Linked DNA regions of Homo sapiens. The protein of the gene in region 1 interacts with the protein of each later gene in a pairwise test. Each region holds a gene or a part of one and is shown on either strand. Other genes may lie near its edges.

Region 1 (3,088 bases):
TGCCCTTCCCCTGTTGTTTAGAAGATTTCCAGCAATAGAGAAGTGCTGACGACATATCTGGACCAAAGGAAGGCTTGATCATGGACACTTTCCTTTAAGAGGCTGGCTGGACTTAAACAAGGGCACAAATTTTTAGCTCTGTGACGACCAGCCAGTTACTTGGACATTTCCTTTGTAGTCCTGTGATGAGCAAAACGGGTTCATAACTAGTATTTCCCTTTAGGATTGCTGTGAGGATTCAAAGAATGAAAGAGATTAAAAAGGGACTGGTGTAGACTCAATGTCATGCAATAGTCAGGTATACTGAAGAGAAACAACTGCATGTCTTGTTTTTTAATTTTATTATTTTAGAGATGCTGACTTGCTATGTGGACTAGGCAGAACTCGAACTCCTGGGCTCAGGTGATCCTCCCGCCTCAGCCTCCTAAGTAGCTGGGACTACAGCTTCCCGCGACCTCACCCATCTTGCTTTTTAATTTAAAGCAGAGTCTGCATATCATCTGAAGTCATCTCTCTTTGGGGACATCCCACAGGTCCAGAACTGCCAGACGGTAGTGGGGTGGCCGGCTAGGCTGTGGGGAGCATGGAGATTTATCTGCAAAGGAGGACCTGGACAAATGTTCCCCCACATCCTCTCAGGCGAAGAGAATGGACGGGAGAGAGAGGCCGACCAGTGTTCCCCGTGTTGCTGTGTACGGAGGAGCCAGTCCGAGGGACCGCGGTGTGGACAGGGACAGGCAAGGCGGGGAAGGAGGAGAAACGAAAGCCACATTGGTGGCGGGTGCTCTGCACACGACTCGCTCCCTACCACACGCCCCCCGCTCCGCACACGACCGATCCGGGGACTGGAGCAGGAGGGCTGCACCGGGACTCCGGGACAGGCCCAGTTGAAAACGGCGGGGCGAGGGGGTGGGGTGGAGACGCCCGCGACGCCAAGGCTGGGGTCCCGGAAAGCGCGGGGAGGAGGGTGGAAGGCAAAGGCAACTTCGGGGAAACTGGGAAAGGCGGCCGGGACCTCGGGGACACTGCGTACCACCCGGCGCACAGCCCCTCCCGCGCAAACCCGAGCCAAAGGGGCGGTCGAGCGGCGCACTCGGAGCGGAGCTCAGGGGATGGTGCGCCCGGCACTTATGCTGGGCTCAGCCCAGCCCAGCCCAGGACCGCTGGCGGTGCGAACCCAGCCGGGCGGGTGCAAGCGCGGGGCAGGGCCTCTGCGCCCGGCCCCCTCCCCTGAGTAGAAAAGCAGCCGCAGGCTGTGGCGCTCCACCACGCCGTCCGGGTGGGCCTAGCAGTCGCTCCATTTATCGCTTGAGATCTCCAGCCTTACCGCGGCTCGAAATGGACCCCAACTGCTCCTGCACCACTGGTAAGAGAAGCCGACCCTGCGCCCTAGGAATCCCATTTCCCAGCCCCAGTACTGAGGGTCTCTGGGTTTGAGGAGGTCGCATTTAAGTTCTGAGCGGAAGGGAATTCCTTTACTTCCTTAGGTGCTTTCTTCCTGATCTCCCCTCTGAGAGCACTGCCCTCCCTCCTGGGCCTCTGGGTCAGAGTTAAGGATACTGAGGGTCAAGGCAGTCCCGCTCCACATCACCCAGTTGGTTAGGGTCCTGCTGGCTGGGCCCCAGTGTTCTCCTCCAGGCTCTGAGCAATCAGGGTGGACTGGGGGCTGGAGACATTTGAGTCTTCAGGGTTCAGCACAGAAGGTTCTGGCTGGCAATCTCAGTATTCCTGGGTTGGGTGTGCCCCTGGGACCTTCCTGGTAGGGTAAAACAGGAGGGTGCTTGCCCTTCCCAGCGTTAGTGGAGAGGACAGGGGCTTTCCCTGAGTGGGAAAGGAGCTCTGAGGGCTGGCCCTGCACAAAGGAGGGGGCACTGGAGACTCATTGACCCATTGCTGTACCTTCTTCATCTCACTCACTGCCCACTGCGTTTTTCTCTTCCTTGCAGGTGTCTCCTGCGCCTGCACCGGCTCCTGCACGTGCAAAGAGTGCAAATGCACCTCCTGCAAGAAGAGTGAGTGCGGGGCCATCTCCAGGAATCTGGGGCTGTGGCTGAGATTGGGAGGGAACCCAAGGCTGGCCCTGAGTGCATCCTTCTGGGGAACTGGGCTTTCTTTGCCCTCATTGCCCGTGTCATTCCCTCTCCAGGCTTTCTGCCCTAAATTCAGATGGGGCAGGACAGCATTTTTCTCTTGGGACACAAATCCCAACTGTAGCATCTATGGTTTCAGAACAGAGCTGTGCCAGACGTAAAAAGCTTCCTCTGGGTCTGGGTTCTGAGCTCCAGCCAGGCTTGCTATTGGGGCAGGGCGGTGCCCGGTCAAGTCTACTGCTACCTCTCTCTCCCCTTCTTCCCCAGGCTGCTGCTCCTGCTGCCCCGTGGGCTGTGCCAAGTGTGCCCACGGCTGTGTCTGCAAAGGGACGTTGGAGAACTGCAGCTGCTGTGCCTGATGTGGGAACAGCTCTTCTCCCAGATGTTAATAGAACAAGCTGCACAACCTGGATTTTTTTTCAATACGATACTGAGCCATTTGCTGCATTTCTTTTTATATTAAATATGTGAGTGACAATAAAACAATTTTGACTTGAATCTTACTCTGTTCTTCTTTGTGTGCCTTGGAAAAAATGGACTGGGTGGGGGTTAAACTGGGAGTTTAGAGACCAGTCTCTGGATGAAAATGTGAGTCACTAACAATGTGAACACCTTCAGGCCAGCCAGGTTACTCACTGAGTTCACCCTTCTGTAAAACGGTATTGCATTGTGCACACCATATGGGTGCGGGCCATACATGATCGCTTTTAGTGTGATTCCAAATGTGGTACAGAAACTTCATCCCTTATTTTTATTTTCTGATTTTCCTCCACAACTTGAGATCCACATTGGATTTTAGGCTTAAAAGTGGCTATAGTGCTGGAACCCAACTTCTTAGTTTCTTGAATCCTACACGGGTGCTATGATTTAGATATTTTGTCACTGCCAAATCTCATGTTGAAATGTGTCCTCCACTATTGCAGGTGGGGTCTAGTGGGAGCTTTTGGGGCCATGAGGACAGATCCCTAAAGAATGGCTTGGTGCCCTCCCATGGTGAA
Region 2 (4,014 bases), on another chromosome or scaffold:
CTCAGGAGGCTGAGGCAGGAGAATCGCTAGAACCCGGGAGGCAGAGGTTGCAGTGAGCCAAGAATGCACCACACTGTACTCCAGCCTGGGTGACAGAGCAAGACTCCATCTCAAAAAATAGAAAATAGGCTGGGCGTGGTGGCTCACGCCTGTAATCCCAGCACTTTAGGAGGCCGAGGTGCGCGGATCATGAGGTCAGGAGATCGAGACTAGCCTGACTAACATAGTAAAACCCCGTCTCTGCTAAAAATACAAAAAAAAAAAAAAAAAAAAAAAGCCGGGTGTGGTGGTGTGCACCTGTAATCTCAGCTACTCGGGAGGCTGAGACAGGAGAATCACTTGAACCCAGGAGGCAGAGGTTGCAGTGAGCCAAGATTGTGCCACTGCACCCTAGCCTGGGTGACAGAGCAAGACTCCGTCTCAAAAAAATAAAAATAAATAAAATAAAATAAAATAAAATATTAAATAAAAGTATCTTAGCCCAACAAGGTAGGCATTATTATTGTGCCCATTTTACAGATGAAGAAGCCAAGGCACAAAAAGGTGAAGTAATAGGCTTATGGCCCCACAACTAGCAAGTTGCAGAGCCAGGATTTGAACAGAGGCAGTGAACCCAGAGCTCCAGCCACAGCCGCCCAGGACTCAGTCTCCCCCTACAGCCCGGGAGCCTCTGGAGGGTCCAAAGTCTAACTCTGTCTTTGGGTCCCCAGGTTCATCCAGCACAGATGCCTAAGAAGGATTTTCCCAGTTCAAGTGACTTGAGGTTGGCCCTGCCACTGACCTAGAGCGTGTCCCTTCCTCTCTGCCAGCCTCAGTATCCCCATCTGCCAAATTGGGGGGACCTTGGCACCCTACTGGCTTCACAGATCCCATGAGATAAGGGGTGCAGGAAAACTACCTTTCAAGGGGCAAAGGTCTGGCTGCCAGGAGCCACTCCCTGAGAACAGAGGAGGACAGATCTAGCAGCGGAACAGGTTCGCGTCTATAAATCCCCAGCCAGAGACCAGCGCAGGCAGCCCTGGGTGGGACACCTGGCTGCAGCTGCCTTCCGTTGCTGTGTGATTCTAAGGCTCACTGGCGGCCTCTGGGCTTCCCCTTGTCCTGTCTATGGAATGACGGGAGGTCGGTTTCGATTCCTCCACGATTCTGTGAAGGGCTGAGCTTTCCTGGGGAGGTGAAAAGGGGCTTCCCTGAGGACCCAGCATTACTGTACCTCCTCACTTAGGAAGCAGGGGTGAATCTGGGATTTTGGGTGGTCACTGTGGGAGGACAGGGCTGGGGTACAGAGCAAGAGGCTGCCTGGGTTCAGATCAGCCTCTTTGCATCTTTTTGTTGTTGTTGTTGTTTGTTTTTGAGACAGTCTCGCTCTGTTGTCCAGGCTGGAGTGCAGTGACGCAATCTCAGCTCACTGCAACCTCTGCCTCCTGAGTTCAAGCGATTCTCCTGCCTCAGCCTCCCGAGTAGCTGGGATTACAGGTGCCCACCACGATACCCAGCTAATTTTTGTATTTTTAGTAGAGACGGGGTTTCGCCATGTTGGCCAGGCTGGTCTCGAACTCCTGACCTCAAGTGATCTGCCCACCTCAGCCTCCCAAAGTGCTGGGATTACAGGCGTGAGCCACCAGGCCTGGCCACCTCTTTGTATCTTTAAACACCAGCCAGTGACCTCCAGGACCCTGGGGTGGACTTCAGGGAGGGAACACACCCCAATTTGTTTGGAAATTTGGGCATCCACTTTTTCCTGGTGCTAAGACCCCTTTCTAATGGGTTCCCAAAAAGACTTCATAATCCCTGGTCTAAATGTTTTTCGGGAGGCATTTGGCTTAGTTGGAGGATACCCTGATGCTGGGACCCCAACATTAGAGGTTGAAAGGATGGTAGCCCAGAGGAGAAGATGAGGTTTGGGGTTTAGTGCCCCAGCAAGTCAGAGCCCAGGGTTTCCCAGGACGGAGGAAGACGGAAGGGTCACAGGAGGGACAGGGTTGGGGAATCTGTCTTAAAAGATGAAAAGTTGTGACCACTTTCTGGACCTTACCTTTCTCTTTCTCTTTCTCTTCCTTCCACAGATGAATTGGGTGAGTATCACAGGGCAGGTTTGCGGGGAGGCTGAGGGACCCAAGTGCCTACAGAAGGGGGTCTTGGCCTTCCTTGTTCAGTGGGGGTGGGGGAGAGGTGTCACTGTGTGACTTCCAGGACTGTGGAGGGATTTGAACGAAGTCATGCTCCTAAGGTACTTAGCAGTGCTTGACACTTGGAAAACACTCAGCACGCCGGGGGCTGTGTGACTCACACCTGTAATCCTGGCACTTTGGGAGGCAGAGGCAGGAGGACTGCTTGAGGCCAGGAGTTCAGGACTAGCCTGGGTAACATAGTGAGACCCCCATCTCTACACAAAATTTTTAAAAATTAGCCGGGCATGGTGGTGCGCACCTGTAGTCCCAGCTGCTCAGGAGGCTGAAGTGGGAGGATCACCTGAGCCTGGGAGGTTGCCTTGGAAGCCGAGGCTGCAGTGAGCTATGATTGCACCACTGCACTGCAGCCTGGGCGGCAGAGCAAGACCGTGTCTCAAAAAGAAAACCAATTAAAATAAAATAATGTTATTAATCCCCTAGTGAGTACAGACAGACACTGTTTTAGGCCCTGGGGATTTAGCCATGAACAAAACCAAGTCCCTGCCCTCGCAGAGCTGATAGCCCGGTGTGGGAGACAGAGGAAAATGAACAGATGAGCAAGATAATGTTAGCCTGGGCTGAGAGCTGTGAAAGAAATAAACAGGACGAGGGAGAGATGGCCTGGAGAAGACACATTAGGTTAGGCTTTTCTGAAGAGATAACATACGAGCTGAGACCAGGAGGAGAAGCAGCCAGCATGGGTTGAATGGGGGACCGTGTGGAACAGGCAGTTGGAGGAGCAAGTTCTTTCTTATTTATTTATTTAAGTTATTTTTTGAGACAGAGTCTCGCTCTGTCGCCCAGGCTGGAGTGCAGTGGTGCTGTCTCAGCTCACTGCAACCTCCACCTCCCAGGTTCAAGCAATTCTCCTGCCTCAGCCTCCCGAGTAGCTGGGAGTACAGGCATGCACCAACATACCTGGCTCATTTTTGTATTTATTTATCTATTTATTTAGAGATGGAATTTCGCTCTTGTTGCCCAGGCTGGAGTGCAATGGCATGATCTTGGCTCACTGCAACCTCCACCTCCCAGGTTTAAGTGATTCTCCTGCCTCTGCCTCCCGAGTAGCTGGAACTGCAGGCACACATCACCATGCCCAATTTTTATATTTTTAGTGGAGATGGGGTTTCACCATGTTCGCCAGGCAGGTCTCAAACTCCTGACCTCAGGTGATCCGCCTGCCTCGGCCTCCCAAAGTGCTGGGATTACAGGCGTGAGCCACCATGCCCAGCCTATTTATTTATTTATTATTATTATTTTTTGAGATGGAGTCTTGCTCTGTTGCGCAGGATGGAGTGCAGTGACGCAATCTCGGCTCACTGCAACCTCCGCCTGACGGTTTCAAGCGATTCTCCTGCCTCAGCCTCCTGAGTTGCTGGGACTACAGGCACGTGCCACCATGCCTGGCTAATTTTTTGTATTTTTAGTAGAGACAGGGTTTCACTGTGTTAGCCAGGATGGTCTCGATCTCCTGACCTCATGATCCGCCCGCCTCGGCCTCCCGAAATGCTGGGATTACAGGCATGAGCCACCGCGCCCAGCCTATTATTTATTGAGAGACGGAGTCTCACTCTGTCGCCCAGGCTGGCGTGCAGTGTCACGATCTTGACTTACTGCAGTGTCCGCCTCCTGGGTTCAAGCTGTTCTCCTGCCTCAGCCTCCTGAGTAGCTGGGATTACAGACGTGGGAGACCATTCGGGCTAATTTTTGTAGAGACGGGGTTTCACTATGTTGGCCAGGCTGGTCTCGAACTCCTGACCTCAATTGATTCACCCACCTTGGCCTCCCAAGGTGTTGGGATTACAGGCGTGAGCCACCGCACCTGGCCTCCCTGACTCTGTGT

What was found.
Region 2: the proteins of MT1M (region 1) and RELB interact in a two-hybrid assay, tested with the Homo sapiens proteins (one large-scale study listed by BioGRID and IntAct).

What each region holds. Positions count from the first base shown.
Region 1 is NC_000016.10:56,631,394-56,634,481, forward strand, and holds MT1M (metallothionein-1M), read left to right. Parts: upstream 1-1,265; 5' UTR 1,266-1,338; coding exon 1,339-1,366; intron 1,367-1,946; coding exon 1,947-2,012; intron 2,013-2,357; coding exon 2,358-2,449; 3' UTR 2,450-2,588; downstream 2,589-3,088. UniProt on the Homo sapiens protein: Metallothioneins have a high content of cysteine residues that bind various heavy metals; these proteins are transcriptionally regulated by both heavy metals and glucocorticoids.
Region 2 is NC_000019.10:45,007,748-45,011,761, forward strand, and holds part of RELB (transcription factor RelB), read left to right. Parts: intron 1-710; exon of another isoform or gene 711-763; intron 764-2,066; coding exon 2,067-2,075; intron 2,076-4,014.